Regions from separate parts of the Homo sapiens genome. Here all the other regions are linked to region 5. The links come from fine-mapping of genetic effects on gene expression. A gene starts in region 5. Each other region holds a variant in brackets. All regions are shown on one strand. Distances are from middle to middle. Region 1 overlaps NDST3 (N-deacetylase and N-sulfotransferase 3). Region 2 overlaps PRSS12 (serine protease 12). Region 3 overlaps NDST3 (N-deacetylase and N-sulfotransferase 3). Region 4 overlaps NDST3 (N-deacetylase and N-sulfotransferase 3). Region 5 holds the start of SNHG8 (small nucleolar RNA host gene 8).

What was found. PIP is the estimated chance that this variant, and not a neighbour inherited with it, causes the effect.
Region 1: its variant is the best candidate, but not a certain one, in a credible set for the expression of SNHG8 in esophagus mucosa (GTEx, PIP 0.75).
Region 2: its variant is the best candidate, but not a certain one, in a credible set for the expression of SNHG8 in whole blood (INTERVAL, PIP 0.54).
Region 3: its variant is the best candidate, but not a certain one, in a credible set for the expression of SNHG8 in prefrontal cortex (GTEx, PIP 0.56).
Region 4: its variant is the best candidate, but not a certain one, in a credible set for the expression of SNHG8 in lymphoblastoid cells (GENCORD, PIP 0.57).

The regions. Positions count from the first base shown.
Region 1 is chr4:118,208,882-118,213,881 of GRCh38, reverse strand. All of the region lies in intron 6 of NDST3 (N-deacetylase and N-sulfotransferase 3), which reads right to left. Among named protein-coding and RNA genes, the nearest start is that of SNHG8, 67 kb to the left of the region's middle. The variant T/C (reference allele first, on the strand shown) is at 2,649.
Region 2 is chr4:118,315,911-118,322,110 of GRCh38, reverse strand. PRSS12 (serine protease 12) reads left to right here. Exons shown (of 13, transcript NM_003619.4): 5 at 3,555-3,733; 6 at 5,788-5,929. Among named protein-coding and RNA genes, the nearest start is that of PRSS12, 34 kb to the left of the region's middle. The variant T/C (reference allele first, on the strand shown) is at 3,478.
Region 3 is chr4:118,102,599-118,107,598 of GRCh38, reverse strand. It overlaps NDST3 (N-deacetylase and N-sulfotransferase 3), which reads right to left. Exons shown (of 14, transcript NM_004784.3): 3 at 2,494-2,581. All of the region lies in intron 2 of LOC107986307 (a long non-coding RNA gene), which reads left to right. Among named protein-coding and RNA genes, the nearest start is that of NDST3, 71 kb to the right of the region's middle. The variant A/G (reference allele first, on the strand shown) is at 2,990.
Region 4 is chr4:118,248,118-118,253,117 of GRCh38, reverse strand. All of the region lies in intron 12 of NDST3 (N-deacetylase and N-sulfotransferase 3), which reads right to left. It overlaps LOC105377392 (a long non-coding RNA gene), which reads left to right. Exons shown (of 3, transcript XR_939113.3): 3 at 1,431-1,671. Among named protein-coding and RNA genes, the nearest start is that of SNHG8, 28 kb to the left of the region's middle. The variant T/AT (reference allele first, on the strand shown) is at 1,988.
Region 5 is chr4:118,275,795-118,281,994 of GRCh38, reverse strand. SNHG8 (small nucleolar RNA host gene 8) reads right to left here and starts at 3,233. Exons shown (of 3, transcript NR_034011.1): 1 at 3,203-3,233; 2 at 2,564-2,606; 3 at 2,172-2,371. It overlaps PRSS12 (serine protease 12), which reads left to right. Exons shown (of 13, transcript NM_003619.4): 13 at 1-1,957. The coding sequence ends at 59. SNORA24 (small nucleolar RNA, H/ACA box 24) reads right to left here and starts at 2,805; the gene lies at 2,675-2,805. RefSeq lists a silencer at 3,406-3,455 and an enhancer at 3,526-3,705.

The DNA of each region.
Region 1 (5,000 bases), 68 kb after region 5:
GTTGAATTGAAGTCTATATCATAAGTGATCTTTTTGCTTTTAAAAATTATACAGTCAAGGTAAAAAACAGAAAATGTCAAAAAAGAAAAAAATTCTGAATTGTTTTCATATTTAAAAATCTTATATATAGGATTTATATAAAAAAGTATATATTATAAATTATGTATAAATTATTTTTATATAAAATTTTGTATGTGTATGTTAATGTATGGTATAACTTGATGCATAGTGTTTGCTGCTTAGCAATATATCTTTAGCATTTTATACATTGTTAAAAATACTTTAAAATGTGTATATATATATATATTTAATGGCTAAATAGTAATTTATCTTATTAATTATCACAATGTCCTTAGTCAGTTTTCTACTCTTGGTCCTTTAGTTTGCTCATAATTTTTATTGTTGTAAACAACACTGGATTGGTCATCATCATTGATACATCTTAGTTGGTATCTGACTATATTCCTGGGAAAAATTTTTAGAAGTGGATGAAATTGCAGGTTCCAACCGAATGCATATTTTAAAGGCTAGTATCTTATTGTGCCACCTGTCTTGGGTTCAGCACACTGGCTCAGTGCCCTGGGCTTTATTCCTGTTCACCTGGGGCATGAATAAGAACAAATCATAAAGGAAGAGCAGTCTACTGGAGTTCATGAATGGTGACAATTTATGTTCGAGCTGTGAGAAAAATTGTCCTCTTCATGTCAAATCACTGCTTTTCATTTTGCATGATTCTTGCTGGCTGGGAAGCATTATTTGGAAATTGTGTTAGCTTTGACGATTTAGCTTGCAATCAATAATGAACTGCAGATGAAAAAGAAACCAAATGTGAAGAGACTAATAAGGAAGGTAGAAAAATAGTCTTTCATCAGACTATAGGGGAGCAAATGTTAGCTTTAACAGCTCCAGATGAATTACATGTGAGGATTCAATGAGATAATACATGCTAAAAGTTCAATATAGTGTCTGACAACATAGTTAAGTACCCAAGAAATACATGTTACCTGAGATTGGGTAAAATATGATATTTTGACTTGTCTTGAAATTCTTGCACCCAAGGCTAACCTGTTATAATTATTTGATCTATTCTGAGGAAGGCATGTGAGTATACTTATACTTTGGAGCTCATTTGGTTCTTTCCTCATGTATAGAAAAAATAAGTCAGCCATTCAGAAAACCCTTCATCCTTTTTTAAAAAATGTCCAAATCAGGTAGACTTTAAAGGTGTAGGATTGTTCTGCTGCAAATGGTCATAGCATACTCTTGATGCTATGTTGTATGATATTATCAAACATTATATTGGATATAATAATTTCTTATTTATTTATAAAAGAATGAATGAAAAACAAGGCCTTGCTTTGCCACCCAGGCTGGAGTGCAACGTCTCCATCACAGCTCACTGCAGCCTCAGCCTCCTGGGCTCAATTTACCAATCCATCTTAGCCTCACCAGTAGCTGGGACCACAGGTGCATACAGCCATGCCTGGCTAATTATTGTATTTTTTTGTAGAAATGGGGTTTCGCCATGTTGCTCAGGCTGGTCTCAAACTTCTGGGCTGCTCAAGCTCTCTGCCCACCTTGCCCCCACTAAGTGATGGGATTACAGGCATGAGGCCTGGCCTTTCTCTACTTTTAATCCAGACTGTAGCTGCCTCTATCTGCTTTATTTATAAAAAACAATTAATAAAATGCACATTGTGGCATGTTTTTTCATCAGGTCATCATACAAATTCCAAATGCTTTATTTGCATTGTGAACCCAACTAACTGTATCCCTCTTCTAATTAGATCCAAAAAGATGCCCGCTGCTATTCCAACCCTACCTGTCCTAAGGGGATGTTTGATACAAGGGAAAGTGGAATGGAAAGAAACAGTGGTCCCAAACAAGCTGTGGAAGGGGTCCATAAAAGTGAGGGGCTTTGAGTCGTTGCCTTCTGAAGTTTCTCACTAAGCCCTCTTCTGGGATGTGGGCAAGCCTGAGGGAAGAGAAGGAGTTCCTCAAGGGGACTCCTTGACACAGGCACATCGTTCACTTTACTTGCAGTGTATTATAGTACATGGCAGTTTATGAGAGCCTAGTTACACAGATTTACGGACTGTACTTTCTAGCTTTAATTAGGCTAACCATCACAAAAAGTCCAAGCGCCTTAAAAAGATTATAAGAAACCATGGTTCATAGTGAATGCTGTTAATAATAATGAAAGCACAAGTGAAGGAAAGGAAAGTGCCAGAGCCAACCCCTGTGCTCCTTCTAGTCTGAACCCTTGTCAGCCCCTAATGCGATGAAAACAGTGATGATATAATCACATTTAACAATAGTAGGCTCCCAAATTTCAAAAGTTTGAAGAAGAGTATTTGAAATATGGATTTACATCTGTTAATCATAATGTGAGGCTACTGTGATTAGCAAGACATTTAAAAATCTTTTTATTTCATTCTTAGAAATTTTATATTTCTATGTATATTCATGGTATAAAAATCTGAATATAAAATGAATGAAATAATCTTAAAAATAATTATGTAGCTCATATGTTAAATAATTAGGATTCATGGGATATTATTACTAAAGCAATCTTACTTCTTTTTCCCACTGTCCCTTTAAAATTTGTTCAGTATGGGTAGTTTTCCCTTGCAGAATGGCCTCCCTAA[T/C]CTCTTAGGTGACAGAAAGTTGCCATGTAGCTTTAAGTCTTGATTTAGTAGTTTAAATCTTTTGGTTCAAAGAACAATAAAAATTCCAAACTTGTTGCAATATTAAATCTGCTCCTCTCATCCTCCTGAGACCTGGTGCAGGAGAGAATTTGCAAGAGAGGCTGGGAAGAAAGTCTGATCAATGCTCTGTTCTCCAGTGGGTGATTTTACTCTACTTGCTTACTGAGGTTTCTGATCCCTTAGTATCTGGGACATGGAGATGAAGGAGTGAAAAGGATGCAGGGAATTATTACTCAACTGATACTGTCATATGCATATGTTTAAAATCATCTGAGATCTTTGGAGTCATCACTTCTGGGCCCCATCAGTACAACTTCCTTTGGTAGCCAGTGACTCCCCTAGTCTTTTATCAGGAACCCTCTTGAGCAGGGTCCCCCCGCTTTTTTTTTTTTTTTTTTTGAGATGGAGTCTCACTTTGTCACCAGGCTGGAGTGCAGTGGTGCAATCTAGGCTCACTGCAACCTCTGCCTCCCGGGTTCAAGTGATTCTCCTACCTCAGCCTTCTGAGTAGCTGGGACTACAGGAGCGTGCCACCACACCCAGCTAATTTTTGTATTTTTAGTAGAGACGGGGTTTCACCATGTTGGCCAGGATGGTCTCAATCTCTTGACCTCGTGATCCACCTGCCTTGGCCTCCCAAAGTGCTGAGATTACAGGTGTGAAACACCGTGCCCGGCCCAGCAGGGTCCCTTTTAAAAGGATCCTAGGCTAATATTCCTTTTAAGAGTTGCACATTTGGGCCCTGGGATTTGGGAGCCTTTGATCTGTCTTTGGAAAAAAGGGCACATAATTCTTATATGTGGTTATTTCTTCTTCTGATACCACTTTAGCCAATCTCTCTCTCATACTTTGGATTTATTAGTTGTAAGGCAGACAACAACCTACTGTGTCCCCCTCCTGCAGGAAACACCTCTTAAGCTCTCTGATGGTCTCAGTGACCCTCAAGCCAGAGCTCAGCTGAGCAGCAGAGCAGGCAATGACCCCTCTGTTCTCCCGTGGATAGAGGGTGGTGGGATCATGCTCAACACACAGCACAACTCTTTCCAAAAATCCTCCCCACAAATCCTCCTTAATTTCCAGGAACTTGACATTTTTATTCTGGGTGTGGGTAGGTGTTAGAAATTTTGGCATGTTTGTCCCTCTCACAGCTCATTTTGGTGTCTATTATCTTTCATGTTTTTGTGTAATTACAATGGTCTTATGCTAAAAATTTCTTTCACTTTATCACCTTCTCCAGGGGGAGACAAAAGATGTCACCTTAATTTCTAAGGTTTAAATTCACTGAGTACTGTTTTTCTACCTGGCTCGTGCCTTAGTCATCACTTAAGAATCTCAAAGGAAAGCTCAATTGCAGAATACTTTGGCAAAGGGTTCTTAACATTTAGAATTTGGGATCTGATAGGCTTTAAAGGAAAGTTGGAAGGGTAAATCAATTGCTCTCAATTAGAGACAGGTTTCAAAGGTACAGTGATGAGGTCAATGTAATTTAAAGCAATTTAGCTTGGAGCAGTTTGTCTTTTTTATAACATTTATGTCTCTCACATAATTTTTCTGGCTATACTTTCAGAACTGCAAGTTCAGCCCTTTTATTACGAGCTAAAGATTGATGATCAATTAACATTTCTGTTAGGTGTCAAAAGTAATTCTATTGGTTTAATGCATTGCTATTACTTTAGCTGCTGAACAAATATTTACATGTCATGAGAACATCTCCAGTTCTCAGATCACCAATTTTCGATTAATTTTGAATTGTGTATCTTGCTCATGCTGTTCTAATGTTCTTTCTGTATTATTCTGAAAGACCCCATTGCAGTTAGTTAGAGGCCAGACAACAGCTGTTCTTCTTCCTTTAGTGTTAGAAAGTGACAGAATAATGAATACAGTTACTTCTTATGATAGATTTAAAAATGATTAATTAATAGACATCCTTTTTTAAGCAGCAGCATAGCACAAAGGTTATATTAATTTTGCAATGAAAACATCTTTATTTTCCAGCAGGAAGCATTTTGCTTCTTTGTTTTAAATCACTCCCTCCACAATATAATAGATATAGGAAGAGCATTAAATTAAACATCTCTAAATGTGTTTAACTTCAAAAACTTTCCAGAAAATTGACCTACATGAAAATTTGATTTTGGCTCATATGTGAATGAATTAAATTTAGGTAATCACAAAGATCAGCTTCACTACTAAGAGGTTTCAATTAACTATATTTGCTCATAAGGCTGAATTCACTCTGGGGGGAGAGGGTTATCAAAATACCAAACAAATATATTTATTTTGTGATTTAAA
Region 2 (6,200 bases), 40 kb before region 5:
TCATTGCACAAAACGTTTTATTTTGGCACAACAGCCTTTTTAAATAAAATACTTTATGTGCATTCAAATATTTGAAAATGTTTGCCTCTCATTAGATATATCTCTACCACAGGAAAATCTGAAGTTTAGTGATGCAGGTCAGAGCTTACTTAATAGTCTTCTGGGCCGTTACCTTATAATCTATAATAAAAAATAACACATACATGCATTTGTTCAGTCTCCTATAGGCCATAAATTACTTCCATAAATATTTCTTTGAAATTTACTTTAAAATAAATAAATAAATGAAACAACATTAAAACCAGAAAATGTTAAGATATTGATTGATTCTCCCTTCCTTACCATTCCCCCAACTTTACTTTTTGGGGATGAAGGAAAGTAACAACCTTGGTGTTTGTTTAAACTAAATACCAAATGGTCTTTAGATAAATGGCTTAGCAGTGAAAAATATGTTATTTATCAACTGTCAGGGGTACGTGGGGATTCCTTAACGTGCCAGAAGAGGGAAGGGAACCAGCATTTATTGAGCTCCTACTTTGCATCAGTTTAATTCCTACAACCCTGCAAGTTAGCCGTTATCATCCCTGTGTTCAGCTTTGCATCCTAAGCCTGGAAGGTTTTAGTAACTTCCCCAAGGTAGCCCAGCTTGTTGAAGGTACAGCCCAGATTGGAAGCTGAGAGTCTGTGTCCACATATACTTCTCCACTTCAAAGATTGAGCTTGGAAAAAATAAGCTTTTTGACATGGTCAGTAATATACAAATATTTATACATGATTAGTGCACTCTTCTCTAGGCATATAGACATACTTTGAAACAGCTGAAAACTTTATTTAGAACAATCCTATTAATTAAGCATTTATTGACTCTTTCCAGAGTAGACATGACTTTCTGTTTTGTCATTACATTTCCCTTAGCAAAACAAACAAATTCACTCACAAAATTGTCATTTTGACAATATCATTTGTGTTAGGATTCCTTTGTGTTAGGACTCCAATATTATATGTGTTAGAATTCCAAATGTTTTCCTCACATTTGTCCTATTAGTTCTAGATATTAGTCTTTAATTTTTGTTGGGGCAGATTGCTCAGAGTCCACTGTGTTACAAGTATCAGATAGTGCCAGGATTCTAAATTTTAAAATGTTAACTCCATGAAAATATTTTGCTTAAGCCATCTTCTTTTCCTCAGCTTCCTCTATACCTCCTATAATATTCTTTTATCCTTCCTCTTGAATTTTAAACTCAAATTTTGAGTTTGGCACACTCTTTGAATTTTAAACTCAAAGTGAGTCAGGTGATGACGGAGCATTCCCTAAGCATTTGCTTTAATGATATTGTTGTTATTATTATTATTATTTTGAGACAGGATTTCTCTGTGTCACCCAGGCTGGAGTGCAGTGGCATGATCACGGGTCATTGCAGCCTTGACTTCCTGGGTTCCAGCAATCCTCCCACCTTGGCCTCCCGAGTAGCTGGGACCACAGGTGTGTGCCACCACACCTGGCTAATTTTTGTATGTTTTTGTACAGATGGGGTTTTGCCCTGTTGCCCAGGTTGATCTCAAACTCCTGAGCTCAAGTAGTCCACCCACCTTGGCTTCCCAAAGTGCTGGGATTACAGGCGTGAGCCACTGTGTCTGGCCCTCTAATGATATTAAAATAGGTGTTAACTTTTAGATATTTTTGTTTTCTTAGGCATGTTCTTTTAAAAGAAACTTCCATGTTATCTAGTAGAAATAGTGAATCAGGCTCCTTTTTAGCCGCAAAATTGGTATCTAAGACTTTACCATTAGTGGGGTATTACAGCCATTTAGCACACTTTTTTTTCTTCAATATATTTTTGTTGTAAATTCTCAAGTTATAATGTTATAAGAAAAGAGCAGCTAAAATAATGGGGGAGTAGATGCAGTATCATTGAAAAACAAACTAAAAATATAAATGCTATAGTCTAAAAATTAAAAGCCTAAAAGGGACTGAAAATGCAATATCTGAAATTATTAATCACTTTGACAGGTTTGTGATCTTCACTTAAATCTGGGGTTCTAAGAATATGCTATTGCTTTGAATTGTGGGAGAAGTAAATTAACTACAAATAAACTTCAGTAAAGAGATGTTTTTGTTAGAAATAGACTTGGCTGTCAGGCATGGTGGCTCGTACTTGTAATCCCAGCACTTTTGGGAGGTTGAGGTGGGAAGATTGCTTGAGTGCAGGAGTTCAAGACCAGGCTGGGCAACATAATGAGACTCCATCTCTACAAAAAATAAAACATTCACTGGCACGGTGGTATGCACTTATAGTCCCAGATACTGAGGAGGCTGAGGTGGGAGGATCACTGGAGCCCAGGAGGTCAAGACTGCCTTAAGCCATGATCACGCTGCTGCACTCCAGCCTGGGCAACAGAGTGAGACCCTGTCTCAAAATAACAACAACATTAAAAAAGAAGTAGATTTGGCTGTGAGTAACAAAGAACTGAAAATAACAGCAGTTTAAACAAGTTTAGAGTCGAGTGTATTTTATGTTTAGGAAAAGAGACTAGAGGTAGCCAGCTCAAGAGTAGTTTGGTGGTTCCGCAATTATTAAGGCCCCGAATCTCTCTTGTTTGCATTTCTGTCATCCTTAGTATGGGACCCTATGGCCCAAGATAACTTATTAGGCTCCAGCCATCCTTGCAGTCAGGAGAAGGAAGATACTTCCTACAAGTAATACATGGTACTTCCACCTAAATATCACTGGTCAGAACTTATGGCAGGGTGCGGTGGTTCACACCTGGAATCCCAGCACTTTTGGAGGCTGAAGCAGGAAGATTGCTTGAGGCCAGGATTTCAAGACCAGCCTGGGTAACATACTGAAACCCCACCACTTCAAAATAAAAAATAAAAAGAAAATTAGCCAGGTGTGGTGGCATATACCTGTATTCCTAGCAACTCAAAAGTCTGTGGTGAGAGGATTGCTCAAGCCTAGGAGTTAAAGGTTGCAGTAAGCTATGGTCATGCCACACCACTCCAGCCTGGGTGACAGAGTGAGACTATGACTCAAACATAACAAAAAGAAAAACAAAACTTAGGCGTCTAAAATAGGAGCACAATTTTATTTGGGGATGATGAAAAAGTTCTGGAGATGGATGGTAGTGATATTGTACAATAATGTGAAGGTGCTTAATGCACTATAAACCAAAAATGTTTTAAATGGTAAACTTTATGTTATGTTTATTTTACCACAAACAAACAAACTTAGTCATCAAGAAGGAGGGGAGGCCAAAATGTGATTTTAATTTTGGATAGCCATTGTCCTCCTAAAAATCTGAAGTTCCATTACTAATGAAGAAAAGGAGGTTAAATATTGGGCAGTACCTAACTTTGAAACATGGGTAATGGCTGAAAATATAAAGGACAACAAACAAATATACAAAAAAGAAATACAGAAAGTCATGCATGACCTGTGAAGTGAATTAATAAGTGGGGATTAATAATAATGCTTT[T/C]ACTAGGGACAAAAAAAAAATAAAAGACCAATCTTTGGTATCTAATCCAGAATCCTTACATTCTTTTATTTGTTCAGTGGCATTGCCAAAGCATGGCATCAGGCATATTTTGGGGAAGGGTCTGGCCCAGTTATGTTGGATGAAGTACGCTGCACTGGGAATGAGCTTTCAATTGAGCAGTGTCCAAAGAGCTCCTGGGGAGAGCATAACTGTGGCCATAAAGAAGATGCTGGAGTGTCCTGTACCCCTCTAACAGGTAAGGATTTCACTCCATTAGTGTACCAGTTCTTGCCCCCAGTACCATGTCGGCCTGCCACAGCTTCCCTTCTCCTTAATTTCAACATTACCAAATGAGCATACAAATAAATACACCAAATAAAACAAACAAAAAGAATGCAAACCGTATATTAAAGTACCATCTTTTTATTCATAGTTATTCCTGAATTTTTCAATTTAAGGCTATATAGTCTTGTAAAGCTAGATCAGAAAATAGGACTTTGTTGCAGTATATAGTACCCAATAGTCAAAATCAGTGTGCAGTGATACATTCCAGATATTAGGTGTAATAATTCCATCTTTAGTCCATTCATCTATTAACGTTTCTTGACTCAGAATGTGTTTAGAGCTGGTATTGATGCAATTGTTGATTAAAGCACACTGTGAAAGAAACCAAGTTAACTTTGCTATGCACAATTTTCAGACTATTCCAAATGACAGCATGCCTGTCAAAATGTGTCATGTGTTGTAAGAAGGGCATATGTGAGTACAAACTGGTGTGCGTGTATGTACTTACATGTTTAGGGAGAAGAAGAAGGAAATGGAAAAGGCAAGAGAAACTGACTCATCAGAAACCATTTAGTAAAAAGAACTTGAAGAAAAAAATGTTTTGTTTACATATTTCTTTAGTGAAAATCAATAACTTGTTAGAATCTATGAAATACCAGATTTATATCATTCTCTTCACATACTTCTATACATGCAGTTGTTTTTATTAGCAGATTAACACATTAATACACCATAGAAATGTATTTACGCCAGATTTTTAGCCAGAGCACTTCATTTTCTTGAACTGCCATTTTCCCCTCCTTCAAATGAGGATAGTCTTGTAACATTGCTGTGATGCTCAGATGAGATAATGCATGTCATAATGCTTTGCAGACAGTAAAATATTATATTAATAAAAGGTTTGTTGCTCAGAGACCTTTACTTTAAAAGATCCCTGAGATTTATGAAAAGTATGACCCTTACCCAAGATTATTTATATGTTTCATTGAGAGTTTTTGGATTATTTTGGTTGGAAATGGCTTTTAAATCTACTTTTTTTGGAATTAAATTTATTATACTGTTTATCTGCTTAGAAGCTCTTTATAGAATTATAGGCAAATTAATTATTATTTGAGTTAATAAGATTCAAATTCAGATCTGTATTATCAATAAAAGAACAAAGGCGAGACATATCTTCCAGTTTTTATAATTCATGAATGCCTAACAAATAATATATGCATTGACATGACAGACTGTCTTTTATCCAGAATAGTTTTTTTCTGTCATCCTATTTCAGTATTTTTTTCATTTGCAGTTAAAATTCTGAGCTATTTCCAAGTTACTGTATTTTCTTTTTAAATTTAAATGACATGTATTGCTCTGACTTGAGACTAAAGTTATATGAAATTTCCCAAATGTTGTTTAATCTAGAGAAGTCTAAATAGATACTTTGGAATTATATCAGGATATATTTTTCTACATAGAGAATAGGGGTACCAATAAAAAGGAAAGATATATATATATATATATATTTTTTTTTTTTTCCGTGAGACGGAGTCTCGCTTTGTTGCCCAGACTGGAGGGCAGTGGTGCGATTTCAGCTCACTGTAACCTCTGCCTCCTGGGCTGAAGCGATTTTCCCGCCTCAGCCTCCCAAGTAGCTGGGATTACAGGCATGCGCCACCATGCTCAGCTAATTTTTGTATTTTTAGTAGAGACAGGGTTTCACCATGTTGGCCAGGCTGATCTCGAACTCCTGACCTCAGGTGATCCACCTGCCTCAGCCTCCCGAAATGCTGGGATTACAGGAGTGAGCCACCACACCCAGCTGGAAAGAATATTTTATTAGGACAGAAATGTGTTACGTCAAACTTCAGAAACAACATGATAACCTCAGAGGGTCATTTAGCACAGATGTAATGTAAGTTTAGCAAAAGGCCTAGAGTGAGGCCTGAATATGGTGATATTTCTTGTGAAATACAAATGTTGTTTTGCCTTTTTTTGAAAGTTGATTTGCTTAGTCTCTGTGTCTCCTCTTTATCACAGATGGGGTCATCAGACTTGCAGGTGGGAAAGGCAGCCATGAGGGTCGCTTGGAGGTATATTACAGAGGCCAGTGGGGAACTGTCTGTGATGATGGCTGGACTGAGCTGAATACATACGTGGTTTGTCGACAATTGGGATTTAAGTAAGGTTCATTAATTATAAAGGCAGTTAAATGCCAGATTATATTGTTAAAAGTCTTATTATGTTAATCCCTACTTGTAATTTTTATAATAATAAAAATACCTGTTCTCTCCTACCTGTGTATGGAAGTACAACAATGAAAAATAATGACATTTTCTAAGATGATGAATAACCACCTCTTGCTGTTTATTTCATTTACCTTTCCTGCCATGACCCCTCTTCTTGAATAATTAGTTGAAGCCAGGGGTGACCTCTAAGTCCCCTTGTGTCTA
Region 3 (5,000 bases), 170 kb after region 5:
ACTGTACTATACCTTGACTTTTGTATAGCTTTTATCTTCTTTATTTTTATACAAATGGGAGCATGTTCTAATCACTGTACTGTACACTGATTTTTCAGTGTATCTTGAGAGCTTTTTCTATATGGTTTATATTTAAAATTATCTCTTTTTAATGACTGCAGAGTATTCCATTATATGAGTATACCAATACATGTAATCAGTTTTTTTAACTTCTAAAAATACAGAGTAATGCTTTCAATCATGAAATTGTGTTCATCTATCCTGAGGCAAGTCAAAATATCTTTACTCATTTTAATTATGATTGTGAAAAAACTTTTTAATTATTCTCAATATTTAGAGTGATTTCTTTTCACATTTAATAGGGAAATTCAGAATGAGAGTCCACAGTTACATGGCCATATAATTTATGATAATAATGACACTATGAAGCAGTGGGAAAGGATGGTCTTTTCAATACTGGGTGCTAATTAGATGATGATGATGATGATTATTATTATTATTATTATTTTGAGATGGAGTCTCGCTCTGTAGCCCAGGCTGGAGTGCAGTGGCGCAATCTCGGCTCACTGCAAGCTCCGCCTGCTGGGTTCACGCCATTCTCCTGCCTCAGCCTCCCTAGTAGCTGGGACTACAGGGGCCTGCCACGATGCCTGGCTAATGTTTTGTATTTTTAGTAGAGACAGGTTTTCACTGTGTTAGCCAGGATGATCTCGATCTCCTGACCTCGCGATCCACCCGCCTCGGCCTCCCAAAGTGCTGGGATTACAGGCATGAGCCACCACACCCAGCCAATTAGATTTTTTTTTAAGAGACAGATTCTTGCTCTGTTGCTTAGACTGGAGCGCAGTGGCATGAACATAGTTTACTGCAGCCTAGACCTCCTGAGCTCAAGTTATCCTCCCATCTAAGTCTCCTGAGTAGCTGGGACTACAGGCACATGTCACCATGTCTGGCTAACCAATTAGATATTTTTATGAAAAAAAGACCCCTATCTGATATATGCACAAAAATCAATTCCAGATGTATCACAGATTTATACATTGCCAGCCTAGGCAACATAGTGAGACCCCTTCTCTACAAGAAAAATTTGCCAGTCATGGTGGCATGGGCCTGTAGTCCCAGCTACTCAAAAGGCTGAGGTGGGAGGATTTCTTAAGCCTAGGAGGTTGAGGCTGCAGTGAGTTGTGTTTGCACCACTGCACTCTATCCTGGGCAACAGAGCAAGATCCTGTCTCAAAAAGAAAAAAAATTCATGTTCTTGTAGTATGCAAAGATTTCTTAAATAAGATAGAAAAGAATGACCATTAAAGAAAAAAATGATAAATTGAACGGCCTAAAATTAAGTATTTTTGTTCATTAAAAACGCCATAAGGAAAATTAAGAGACAGCCAGACAGCAGGAGAAAGTACTTGGAACACATGGAACTGTAAACTTCAAGGAAAGAATTTCTACAAATCATTAAGTAAAAGCAGAAAACCCAGATACTCCTCAAGAGAGGATATCCAAATAGCCAGCCAACATACGAACAAAGATCATTTACTGCTCTTCAGAGAAATGTACATTAAAACCCTAATATGATATCTCTACATGTTCACCAGAAAAGCTAAAATTAAAAAGACAAACAATATCAAATACTGGCAAGCATACAGAGCAACAGGAACACTCATACTGTTGGGAATATAAACAGGTACAACCATTTTGAAAAACTGACATTTTCTACTAAAATTAATTATAAGTGTGCCACATAACTAGCAATTCCATTCCTAGTTGATGATTAACAGAAAAGAATACTCAAGTCCTCTGAAGGACAGGTATAAAAATGTTCGTAACAGGAAGTTATGAACATTTCTATTCAGAAAAACTCAAAGTCTGGAAACACCCAACCATCTACAGCTTAATGGAATAGACAAGTAAATTTTGTATGTTCAGACAATGGAATACTGTACAGCAAGGAAAAGGAAAGAATTATAACCTATAGACAGTAATATTTCTGAAACAAAAATAACATTGTACAAAATGAGCTGGATACAGATGAATCTTTACTGTATGATTCCTTTTACATACCACTCAAAGCCAAGCAAAACTAATTCATGATATTAGAAGTCAGAATACTACTCTTCTTTGAGAGAAGTTAGTTATTGTGAGGGGCACAAGAAGTGGAGATTTTGGAAGTGTTCTCTTTCTTGATCTGCCTGTTCTTTACACAGCTGTGTACACGTTGAAAATTCACTGAATATCACATTTACTATTTATGTACTTCTATATATGTAAATTATAATTCAATAAAAATGAAAGGCCATCAGATAGTTCCATAAACTTTCAAACCATTAATATTTTACAAAAATTAAAAAATAGCATGTTAAATAGAATTGAATGATAAAATGCTGGGGAGGAACATAGGGAATGTAGGACAGTGTGGGCAGGAAAAGTGTGCAATTTTAAATAGAGTGATCAGAGAAGCCTTAATGAGAACAGTTAATCCCTTTTTCTTACCTGTATGGTAAAATTTCCCTGAAAATCCCAGGTTGAATGTAAAATTTGTGATTTGTGCACGCAAAAGATTCTGAGTATCAAGCAGGGCCTGAAATACATAATTTAAAAAATGTATCAGGTAAAGAATGGCATTAAAAAGTTTCCAAAAGATATATCCTTTTTGCATTCAGAGGATAAAACCAGTTCCTTATACATGTGAGAATTAAATGGTGGAAAATAGTTTCTTTATCACTTTAAAACTAGAGAGATACTTTTGAGTTTACATGAAACACATACATTTATTTATCCTTTAGCTTGCAATAAATCAGCAAAAAGTGTCAGTTGGAAAAAGGAAGTTAAATGAAAAGAGTTTATTCTGTAGGTATCAAAAGAACTACGATCTAGTACATAAAATATATCCAATTTACCCTTCAGGCATATAGATCACCAATTGCCAAAAGAAGGGCACTCATTTTTAGTGAAGCTATGCAAGAACGTATGTTGAAAGAAACAGATT[A/G]TTTCTCAGACAAGTCTTTGGTTTTCAAAATCAAAATCTGAGATTCCCAAAAGATAATGATTGTTGTTCAAAATGAGATATCATAGTAAAGTAGATCTCTAATTTGCCCTTTCATTAAAAAACAGACTAATAAAATATCCTACTTCTGATAAGTAAAGCTATTTTGAATCAGAGTTTTAATTGTTATATCCTATAAAATATTTACCATGCTGAGTATTTAATGTACTTTTCTTTCTTCTTTTTTCTTTCTCAATCTTTAAGTCTGATTCTTATACTCCCTCTCTCTGTCTCCTTCTCTGTCTCTGTCTCTCTCTCACATACACATACACACACACGGTAGTTGAGTGTTCACTTCAACTAGGCAGAAAGTAATGCTGTTAGATTTGTAAATGATCTTTCATAGATGAAATTAGTGGTATCCTAGCTTACGGATATAGATCCAAATTAGGCATTCCTTCTACTCTATCACACCTTATCTTCTTTCTCCCTTTCCTTAATACAGTTGGGCCCACAACTAAATCTTATTTTCTTAATTATAAAGCTGACATCTGGAAGGTCTGCCTCATCATGTTTATGGTCCCAACTTTTTTGGATCATAAGCAGATAGAGTTTTTTATTCATTGACTACCCCATGATTGTATGCTTTATCTGAATGCAAGAGATTCTTCCTGATTTTAAAAGCAGAGGTAGAGAACTTCTGGGTTCAAATTTAGACTCATCTAGCCAATGGTAAGTTTTTGAAATTTAGCTATCTAATTCTTTTGGTATCACTACTCTCTTAACATAAGCAAGCTTTTTGGTGTGCACAGCTGAACCATGTAATATGTGCGTCCTGATGACACTCAGAAATAGAAGACAGGCCTGTTGGTGGATCTCTACACCTAACTATGGGAGCAAAAGAATGAACTGACAGCAATGTCATCAGGGACAGGTTAGGTCCTTACAAGGTGGGGCACGGTTTGGATGGGGGAGGAGGAATCCAGCCAGCTGGACATGATGAAGTTACAAATGGGACTTCTAGGTCAGATGCTGGACCCTGGTGTGGGGAAGGATATACCTAGGTGTAAGATATATAGTATACATATACAAGTGTCTGTATATTTGTACTGCTGACAATTATAATACACACACATTTTGTGTATAAATATATATATATAATGCTGACAATTATAATATCTTCCCTTTCTTTCTTCTCCCCTTCTTCCTCTCTCAATTCTGTTGTTCCCCAGTTGAACATTCTAGCCCACCCTTCCTATCTTTCCTTCCACTTAGATCATATCTTTCTTCTTTTTCCATTTTACTCACTTCATTTCAGTCTCTTATTTTTCTTCTTTCAGTGGTTAAAATATAGATTCGAAATCTATTTGAACATATTTTTTTTGTGTTCAGTGCTTTAAGTCTTACAATTTGGTAAAATGAACCTTCTTTTTGCCTTTCTTTTTGTTCAAACTTAATTGGAATTCGAACTTTGCTTTGTGATCCTTGATTGCATTTTTAATGTACATTTACAAAACTTGATAAGAAAAACTATATATAAGAAACCTGTCTTCTTCTTAGGCCTTAGAAGCTAAATAAAGTTCCTGCGAACTAACCTCTTAGTCAACTAGAATACAATGATTTAAGTTACTAAATTAGCCCTGAATTTGCAGATTTGAATTTCCATTTTACCTATTTATTTGATATTCTAGAAATAAACACTAAACACATAAAAGATACATTGAAACAGATGGCAGATACTAATTATGCCTATATATGGTAAAGAGGGGAAAATTATTTCTAGATGATATTTTATATACTTAAGATAAACAGTGATATTTGTCATCTTTTATGTTGTTTTTGTAAACCAGATTTTGCAGATGTTTATGAGAACATTATTATACATTCATCCATTATTCCCACCTTTTAAAAATATATTTGTTACTGGCCTAACCCTTGTAAAAAGCTTAAGTACCCAGCAATATTCTTAGGTCATATCCTTTTCACTAAACCCTTCATTACTAGAATGATTTTA
Region 4 (5,000 bases), 28 kb after region 5:
GTCAGCCTTCTTCCATGTCTATGGATTTAGATGCTACTTGTATCATACAACTAGAAGGTAATAGAAGAGAAAAGGTTTCAGTGTATCATGGAGTGATTACTTTTAGGATTCTCTAGCTATAATCCATTTAATTTTTTTCAGAGCTACTTTCTTCTTTTGGTATGAGCTCTGTATTAAAGTAATAGCACCTACAAATGAATTTTTTTCTTTTTTCTTTCTCTTTTTTGAGAAGGAGTCTTGGTCTTGTTGCCCAGGCTGGAGTGCAATGGCGCAATCTCGGCTCGCCGCAACCTCCACCTCTCGGGTTCAAGTGATTCTCCTCCCTCAGCTTCCCGAGTAGCTAGAATTACAGGCATGTGCCATCATGCGCAGCTAATTTTTGTATTTTTAGTAGAGACGGAGTTTCTCCATGTTGGTCAGGCTGGTCTCAAACTCCTGACCTCAGGTGATCCGCCTGTCTCAGCCTCCCAAAGTGCTGGGATTACAGGCGTGAGCCACTGTGCCCAGCCTAAATGAACTTTTTATGCCATAATTATAATAAATAATAATAGCACATTAAAATACACATTTTATCTTACCAAAATATTTCATATAACTCTTTCTCATTTGAGGTTTCATTCTGACACTTAAGGATATGCTGTGAAGGATTCTTCCCATTTTATAGCATTTAGCATACTGTTTGGCTCTTGTAAACATTTGCCAAGTATTAGTTGAACACAAAATGAGAAGGGAGAAAATGTTTGTCAAGGTTTATTTACCTTGTACTATACACTTCTTCAATATTCAAGTCATGACTCAAGTCTAGGCCTGCTGATTTTCGGTTTAGGGCCTTTTCTTTTTTACTGGTCTCCAAGTAGGTTTTATATTATTATTCACTGTAAATAAAGCACTAATTTGTATGCTCAGATATAAAAGTGAATGTAATAGCAATGATAATTCCTTTACATAGCTTTTGTTATTCAATAATTATATTGCCATTTTTCTTCTCAATTAGAATTATTTCAGATAACGTTTTTCTTTTGCCTTTAATCTGTTCTACTTCTAGGAATGCTACTTCCAACACTTTGCTTAAAATTATAATGTGAAAACCTGAAATATCTAGGGTGACAGTTTACAAAAAATATGTGCAATGGCTGCACACTTAAAACTACAAAACTTTGTTAAGTTTTAGAAAAAAAGGGAGCTATACCATGCTCATAAATCAGAAGACTAGATACTTTTAAAATACCAAGTCTCTCCAAATTTGTCTATAGATTCAGTATGATTCCTATCAAAACTCCAGTGGACTATATTTTAAGTAGAAACAGAAAATTATTCTAAAGTACATATAAAAATGTAAAGGAAGTAGACAAGCTAAAACAATTTGAAAACAAAGAGCAAATTTGGAGATCTCATACTATTTAATTTCAAGATTTACTCTAATTCTACAGTAATGAAGATTGTATGGTGTTGGCATCAGTGGACCAATGGATCAATGGAACAAAATGAAGAGTTCAGAAATAAATCTACACATCTACAGTCAACTGATTTTCAAAAAATGGCTGCCAAGGTAAGTCAGTGGGAAAGGATTAGTCCTTTAAATTTCACAAGAAAAATTGGATATCTATATGAAAAAGCTGAACATTGACCCTTACCTCATGTTGTATGTAAAAATTAACTTGAAATGTATTATTGAGCTAAACCTAAACTATAAAAATTTAAGCTGAAAACTTAAAAATTTATAGCTAAAATTATAAGGCCGAGGCAGGCGGATCACGAGGTCAGGAGATCAAGACCATCCTGGCTAACACAGTGAAACCCCATCTCTACTAAAAATACAAAAAATTAGCCGGGCGTGGTGGCAGGCGCCTGTAGTCCCAGCTACTTGGGAGGCTGAGGCAGGAGAATGGCGTGAACCCGGGAGGCGGAGCTTGCAGTGAGCCGAGATTGTGCCACTGCACTCCAGCCTGGGTGACAGAGCAAGACTCCGTCTCAAAAAAAAAAAAAA[T/AT]AAAATAAAAATAATAAATAAATAAATAAATAAATAAATAAAAAATTTATAGCTAAAATTATAAAAATTCTGAAAGAAAACATAGGGAAAAAAACCAGAAAATTTTGCAACCTTGGGTTAGGCAAAGATTTCTTAGGATGAACCATAAGGGAAAAATAATGATAATTTTGAATTTATCAAAATTTAAAATTTTGCTCTCATAAAGACACAAGAAAATGAAAAGGGAAACCACAGACTGGGAGAAAACATTTGTAAAAAATATATCTAATATAGAACTTGTATTTGGAATATATAACTCACTATAAAAGATAAAAATATCAATAAAAACTGCATAAAAGATTGGAACAGGCTGGGTGCAATGGCTGACGCCTATAATCTCAGCACTTTGGGAGGCTGAGGTGGGCGGATCAGCTGAGGTCGGGAGTTCAAGACCAGCCTGACCAACATGGAGAAACCCTGTCTCTACTAAAGATACAAAATTAGCCGGGCATGGTGCTGCATGCCTGTAATCCCAGCTACTCAGGAGGCTGAGGCAGGAGAATCACTTGAACCTGGGGGGCAGAGGTTGCGGTGAGCCGAGTTTGTGCCATTGCACTCCAGCCTGGGCAACAAGAGCAAAACTCCATCTCAAAAAAAAAAAAAAGATTGGAACAGACACTTCACCAAAGAACACATATGAATGGTCAATGAACAAATGAAAATTTGCTGAACATCATTCATCATTAAGGAAATACAAATTAAAATTACAAATGAAATAGCACTGTACACTCAGTAGAATGACTGATTTTAAAAATATCCCATGTTGGCAAAGACATGGAACAAATAGAATTGTTGGTAGAAATTAAAAATATTACAGCCTCTTTGTAAAGTTTCTTAGAAATTAAAATACATAACTACTATATGACCCACCAACCCCATTTCTAGGTTTTTACTCGAATGCAATGCAAATGTATGTCCACACAACTGTTCACAGTAGCTTTGTTCGTGATAGCCAAAAAATACAAATTACTCATGTCCATCAACTGGTGAAAGGATAAACAAATTGTGGTACATCCATAAAATGGAGTAATATATAACAATAAAAAAGAATTGACTCCTGATAGATGTAGCAACATAGAGGAAACTCAGAATCATTATGCTAAGTGAAAGAAAGTAGCTTGATGATTCCTAGGGGTCAAGGTGAGTAGAAAGTGTTGACTACAGCGGAGCATGATTAAATTTTTTGGATTATACCTTTTTGTTCTATATCTTGATTCTGGTGGTACGTACAACTGTATATATTTGTATTCATTGAACTGCACAATTACAATGGGTGATTATATGTAAATTATACATTAACAAAGCACTTAAAATGATAGTGTGATCTAATGTGTGTGTGTGTGTGTGTGTGTGTGTGTGTATGTGGGGCTGTAGTCTATATGTAGTTAATCTTGTAGAATTTATAACTCTAGCCCTATGAAAAGAATACAAACCTAGATTTCTGCCTCTGTATGACTTTGTGTATTAGAGAGAATAATCACTTTCCATTTACGTAAAGCCTGTTTCTCATCATTATTAAAGCAATTGTGTCAGATCAGGACACAACATTTTATGTTTTCATGCTGTTTATGGTCTTGTTTGAATCGGTAAGGCAACTGAATAAATTAGTGCTATATTCAGAATTACAAAGAGATCATTAATAAAGACTGTATTATTTAAATAATCTGTACATGAAAGCCTTTGGGAAACTTTAATACAACATTTCTGGAAGTCTGTGATTGATGTAATATTTTTCATTAACATTTTGCTATCAGCAATTTTCCAAAATTGAATTCTGACTCATTTTAAGTATTCAAGTGATCAAAATTCAGAATCCAGAGCAGCTATTACTTTTTGCTAATATACCTTGCTGTAGATAACGTAACTGGAACATACATATGCTGTGTATTAAAATGAGTAGTCTTCTGAGAGAAAGTTTTTCTAAGAAGCACTGAACTCCACACATGCTAAAATTAAGAATCAAAAGAAAAATAGGTTTTTCTTTTATGTCGGCTAATTAATTAGATCTTATGCAGCAGGTGTCATGCTGGGCTTCACTGAGAAAAACTGTGTGTGTAGCTGGCACCTAGCCTAGGCATCTGTGTGCATACCCTCATAGGCAATGGTATAAGTGTGTCAGGATGAAAATGAGAAGGAGAAGCTAGAAGGGAAAGCATGTTTATTTACCCAATGGCCTGAGGGACTGGGTCTGGTCCTTCATGGAGAACCATCATAGATGAAGGGACTGCTGTTCATTGAAGGTCTTATGAGTTTGGGACACAAGTAATACTATTTCAGAGCCCAAATGAAGAAGTGTAATAGAAGATGGAGAAAATCTCCCCACATCTATTCAGAAAGCAGCAGTGTTTCTCTGAAGTCTGGTGGAACAGCAAGGAAACTATCTTTTTATGTAAGCACTGGCAACCATTGTCATGGCTGGGGCCCTCCTTTCAAGGCCTTCAGGCAGTGAACATTTTGGAGGAAGTGTTCATATATTGTTTAGTGTCCGCTTCTAGGGCTACCCTAACCTGGAGGTGGGGATACTTTGTTCATCATTGTGTCTCCAGAGTCATGCACATAATTATTCAATAACATTTTGTTGATTTAAAGAGTAAAACAAGAATGGGTAAGAATGGTTCTAAAGCTTGTGTGGAATATCATCTGGGATATTTAGAAATAACTGTAAAAGACTTGTGGGCAGGGGCACCAAGATTCTCCAATGATTCAACCTCTAAACAGTGACTTTTTTTTTTCTTTTTTTTGAGATGGAGTTTTGCTCTTTCGCCCAGGCTGGAGTGAAGTGGTGTGATCTTGGCTCACTGCAACCTCAACCTGCTGGATTCAAGCAATTCTCCTGCCTCAGCCTCCCGAGTTGCTGGGGTTACAGGTGTGCGCCACCACGCCTGGCTAATTTTTGTATTTTTAGTAGAGATGGGGTTCCACCATATTGGTTAGGCTGGTCTCGAACTCCTGACCTCAGGTGATCCACCCGCCT
Region 5 (6,200 bases):
GTGTTTATACCAAAGTCTCAGCCTTTGTACCTTGGATAAAAAGTGTCACCAAACTGTAATTCTTCATGGAAACTTCAAAGCAGCATTTAAACAAATGGAAAACTTTGAACCCCCACTATTAGCACTCAGCAGAGATGACAACAAATGGCAAGATCTGTTTTTGCTTTGTGTTGTGGTAAAAAATTGTGTACCCCCTGCTGCTTTTGAGAAATTTGTGAACATTTTCAGAGGCCTCAGTGTAGTGGAAGTGATAATCCTTAAATGAACATTTTCTACCCTAATTTCACTGGAGTGACTTATTCTAAGCCTCATCTATCCCCTACCTATTTCTCAAAATCATTCTATGCTGATTTTACAAAAGATCATTTTTACATTTGAACTGAGAACCCCTTTTAATTGAATCAGTGGTGTCTGAAATCATATTAAATACCCACATTTGACATAAATGCGGTACCCTTTACTACACTCATGAGTGGCATATTTATGCTTAGGTCTTTTCAAAAGACTTGACAAGAAATCTTCATATTCTCTGTAGCCTTTGTCAAGTGAGGAAATCAGTGGTTAAAGAATTCCACTATAAACTTTTAGGCCTGAATAGGAGTAGTAAAGCCTCAAGGACATCTGCCTGTCACAATATATTCTCAAAGTGATCTGATATTTGGAAACAAGTATCCTTGTTGAGTACCAAGTGCTACAGAAACCATAAGATAAAAATACTTTCTACCTACAGCGTATAAACTAGCAAAATTTGAAAGGATTTCTGGTAACTAAATGCCAGCTGGACATACAACCTATTTTATCCAACACATTAACATATCTACTATATTTGCTTTTAACAAGCACCTCATCATAGTCCACGTTCCCCGACCATGATGTAAGAGTGCCACCCACTGACACTTCCCTGTAACTGACTTATACCTGCAGGTTTTCCCAAGCCCAACCTGATACAATCCAATCTTAAAATATACTAGTCAAAATGCTTTCCTGGCCTACACATTGAAAAGTTCTAATACATACAGCAGTTATAACATATGCCAGGCACTGCATTAGGCAGCTTTGCACATCACTGACAATTTGCAAAAGGCCAGTAAATCTTATGGTAGTAGCCCTTGTTTTCAAATGGGGGAAAACAGGCTTGCCTCAAAGTGAGACCAGTTGGTGAAACTGATTCCAAACTCCAGAAAAAATGCTGATTTTTTTCCCCATGGTTCTCCTACCTAAATGATTGGTTTCCCTATGGCTATTTCTCCAAGAGTTAAGGGATAGCTGCTTAACTATGCACCTTTACAGAACATTCTTAGCAGTAATGCTCAAATTTAAAAGGCACACTCAAGATACTTCCATGTCATGGATCCTTCCCCAGGTCCCAGTAGTATAAATATAGGGAAGAGGTTAGCATGAACTTACAAATTGTTTTAAGTAATCCTCTTGAATGCCAGTCATTAAAGGACTTTGCCCTTCTACATCAAATTACATCCTTTTCACAAATCCCCATTTCTGTAATAACTGGTGCAAACCTAAAGGTGCTTTATAGTTTTACTACTTTGCAGATTTGCAATGCTGCATATAATGCAGAAGAGCATTAAAAACTTTTGTAAAAACTCATGATTTTGATAAACTTTTAAAGTAGCGTTTATATGTAAATAGAACTACACATGGCACACACACTTGCACAAGGGCTTCAGAAAAACGTGCAATATAGGTGAGAAAAATGTCTATTGAAACTTTCTCACAGGCTGCCCTTATAATTAAACTAGTGTTGGGGCAAGCAACATCTGTTTCAAGTAGATCAGGGACTAGCAAACCTAAAAGGCAGCAAGCAGCCTGCAGTTTGCTCAATCCTTAAGAATACATGGTTCATACAACATGCTTTTACTATGTCTTAAGTGTGACTTTTGAAAGATACAAGTGTTCTGTGCATATTTGTGTAAATAAATACATAATTTTCCACCTTGTATAACTGCCTTAAATTTTTGTATGGTTTAAAAAGAGTCTGCTGTCTCCCTTGGGGGTAGCCTGGTAATTTTTATATTTTACATTTTTCACAAAGGCTGCAATTACCTTAGAACTGTACTCACACTACTTCCACATGAGCGTGTAACACTAAATAGGAGGTATTATGCTATTAACTACCTTTCCGTCTATTAATCACTCAGTCAAGGAACAATGAGTAGCCACATGAATTAAGCATTTTATTTAATTATCACGGACCACCTTAAATATTACTTTACAAAATTCAGGCCTATATTTAAAATAGGTGTCCTGATAACTTCCAGGATATTATTCGGAACACCCGTTTCCCCAACTACGATAAGTCCATTGCCGGATGCTGAATAAACTTCGCCCATTACCACTTGGATTTCTTGATAGTCTGCAAGAGAAAAAAAGCATTATAAAACTCCGAGCTGTGTACTTACCTCACTGTTTTGAGATCTTATCAGCTAATTCAGTTGGTTGTTAACTCAAACTACAAAAGCCAGCAAAACGGGCCAACTTTAGCTTTCCAACGTCCTGCCGCTAAGGCGTTTCAGATTAACTCAGAAATATCAAAAAAGAAATGTACCTTATGTTTCCATCATCCATCGTAATGTGTTCAGCTCAGCTTCCTAGAAACATTGAACAACGGTTTAGAAATTTTGCCCAATAACCCGGCACCCTCTAGGTTTTTAACAGTGAATGTTACTTGTGCAAGTCAGAATCTGATACCAATTAAATGGTGACAGCTTTGCCAATAAACAAGGATATGCTCTTCCATGGCTAGGAAGGGAGACTGCCACGGCTGACAGGTCCCAAAGATACATGGAGATTCACAATCCAGAATTAACCAGCAACCAAACTGCTACAGGTTATTACTCACCATCTGGCTCAAACTGACGGTTCTCGGGGTGCTAGGGCACAAGAGCGACAGAGTAGACTCAAGATGGCCACATGACACAGACGGCTGAACAGGCTTCACCGGAGTCCCCGAGTGCACGGAACCTTTCCCCGAGGGCCCACGGCCCACGCACGCCGGGGTTCAGGGTCCAGGGCTGCACGTGGACGCCCGGCGACCTAATGAGCACTCAAGTCCGCGCATGCTTGTAAACTTAAGGGTTTCCAAAGCCGCCCCCGACCTACCAATATCCTGACTGCGCTGCCTTTTAGGTAAGGCAGTAAGTTTCGGCCCAATTATCATTTTAACTTACGAAAGACAACTACGTACTTTCACCTAATCCCGACGCTTCCCGAATGTGAAAGGCCGAGGCCTTCGGCACACGCTCTCTTATAGAACTGATGACGCTATTCCGGGGGAAGCGCCGCGAGGGGCGGAGCCTATGCTGTTTCACTCCCCGCCCCGCCTAGCCCCGCCGCGGCTCCACCTGTTCCGTCTACCACCCCCTTCGCGGCTCCTTTCCCCCCTCCCCCGCACATGGTCCACGTCTGAGCGGGTCACCTGGCTCCGGATCCAGACGCATGCGCACATACGAGAGCCAAAAGGTTCTCGCATAGCGAAAGATCCTGACGCTTACCGGTGTAGGTCACGAAAGCGAGGGGGATTTTTTTGGTATTTCCTGTTTAGGATACTTATTTTAGACAATATTAGAAAAAGGGGCCGAACGCGGTGGCTCACGTCTGTGATCCCAGCACTTTGGGAGGCCGAGGCGGGCGGATCACTTGAGGTTAGGAGTTGGAGACCAGCCTGGCTAACATGGCGAAACCCCGTTTCTACTAAAAATACAAAAATTAGCCTGGTGTGGTGGTGAACGCCTGTAGTCCCGGCTACTCGGGAGGTTGAGGTGGGAGAATCTCTTGAGCCCGAGAGGCGGAAGTTATGGTGAGCTGAGATCGCTGGTTAGCATTTTACAAATTACCTAATCACTACTCAAAAACAAGAAAAGTCTGAGAAACTATTATGCCAGAGAAAATGATGCATAATGATTAAATGTAATGTGGTATCCTGGCTGGGATCTCCAGCAGAAAAAGGACATTAATGGAAAACTAGCGAATCTGAACAAAGTGTGGAATTTAGGTAATAGTGCCAATACCGATTTCTTTATTGTGACAGATATACCATGGTATTGTAAGATATTAATGGTAGGGGAAATTGGATGAAGGGGGTGTGGGGACTCCATTTTTGCAAATTTTCTGTAAATGTAAAACAAAGTTTAACTTAAAAAAGCAATTATAACCTTACAGTCTATTATACTTTCATTTTAAGACAAAGTAGTGATTTAGTAGTGGTTTCTATCTACTTTAGTGTGAAATTTGTGGCTGAGATGACAGTATTTCTAAGTTTGACTTGAGATCAAACCCAATGAATTTAGCTGCATTCAAACCAAGGCTTTGAGCCTTTGGATATTCAGGAGAGACAATGTGGTAACAAATAAAAGAATTAAAAATTGGTTGGTAAATGAAGATTGGCTTAAGGATTTTATTTTATGTATTTATTTATTTAGAAACATTCTTGCTCTGTTGCCTAGCCTGGAGTGCAGTGGCATGATCTTGGCTCAGTGCAACCTCCACCTCCTAGGCTCAAGCGAGCCTCCTGCTAGGCGTGTGCCACCACTTGGCTACTTTTTTTTTAAGGTTTTTTTTTTTTGAAAGACAAGCCCTCACTATATTGCCCTCAGGCTGATCTCCTGTGCTCCTGGGCTCAAGTAATCCTCTTTCCTCGGCCTCCCAAAGTGCTAGGATTGCAGGTGCAAGCCACTGCGCCCAGCCTAAGGATTTTAAAGATAGAATGCAAGGTGAACCTGTTAGAACTGATCAAATGATGGCTAGGTAACATTTCAGTTCTGCTTTTGATACATGGAGTGAACAGTTCATTATAGAATATTTATTCTTCAACAATGCTTTTCCCTGCACTATATCTTTTTTCCTTTTGTGGTTTAGTGTTGAAACTGGTAGTCATCAGAAAAATTTAACATAGAATGGCACATCTGTCATATGAATGCTGAGATGAATAGGAGAAAATATAGTGAGGAAATAACCTGTGGACTTATTTCTATCTTAAAACACTTAGCAAATCTAAACTTCCAGTGTATACTAGCAGCGTGATACTTCTGCTGTAAAAATTGGTTTTGCTGCAGTAATAAAAGTATAGTGTATTGCAGTATGATCTAGTGTTAAAAAAAAAGCATAGTGTCCAAAAGAGAGGAGATGGACGTTCCCTCCTATCTATATTAAAATATTCTTGTCAGTTCTGAACATCTTGTTCAGTTGTTAAACATTTACTAGACTCCAGCAAATGTTTATTGAGCAGACATGGCCTTTGCCTCAAGACTTGAGAATATAATTGAGTAACTTACAGTTAGTGCCATTACAATGTTTTCCAAATCATTCAAAGTTCAAAGCAAAGAAATTAGTTCTTATTTTTCCCTATCCTTTATTTTCAGTATTTGATATATTTTTGTATCAACCAATGTATTAGTTATCGATTGCTGTATATCAAATTAGCCTAAAGCCTAGTAGCTTAAAAAAAAATAAGCACTTACTATCTCAAATAGTTTTTGTTGGTCAGGAATCTAAGAGCAGCTTAACTGGCTCAGTGTATCTTGTGAGGTTGCAGTCAGGATGTTGACTGGCATTGCAGCCATCTGAAGGCTTGACTGGGGCTGGTGCGGCAGGATTCTCTTTCAAGGTGGCTCATTCACAGACCTGACAAGTTAATGCTCATTGTTGGCAGGAAGCCTCAATTCCTCAGCATGTGAATCTCTCCATAGGGCTGCTTGACTGTCCTCATGATTCTCGTGGCAGCTGGCTTTCCTCAGAGTGAGTGACTCAAGAGAGGAAGCTCCAACACTTTTTATTGTGGCCTACACACCATCACTTGTTAGAAGTTAGTTATTAATGCCAGCTCACATTCAAGGGGAGGGAAATTAGCCCGTCTTGAGGGGAGTATAAAATTTTGTTGACAAATTCTAAAAGTGTCACAGTCAGGATGGATGAAGTTGTGTTGCAGTTACAGAAGATCCAAAATCTCTGTGGCTTAAAACAACAGAGATTTGTTTCTTGTCATGCTTATGTTCATGTTAGAGACCAGGCTAATGAGGCCTTCACCATTTGTAATGGTTCTAGGCAACATAAAGGGAGAAGGGAAAATAGTCATTATGTTCTTAAAGGATTCCATTCTGATGTGACATATGTTACTTTGACTCATATTTATGGACTAAAGCAAGTTCCATGGCCACACCTAACTCCAAAAGCCTGGGGAAATGGAA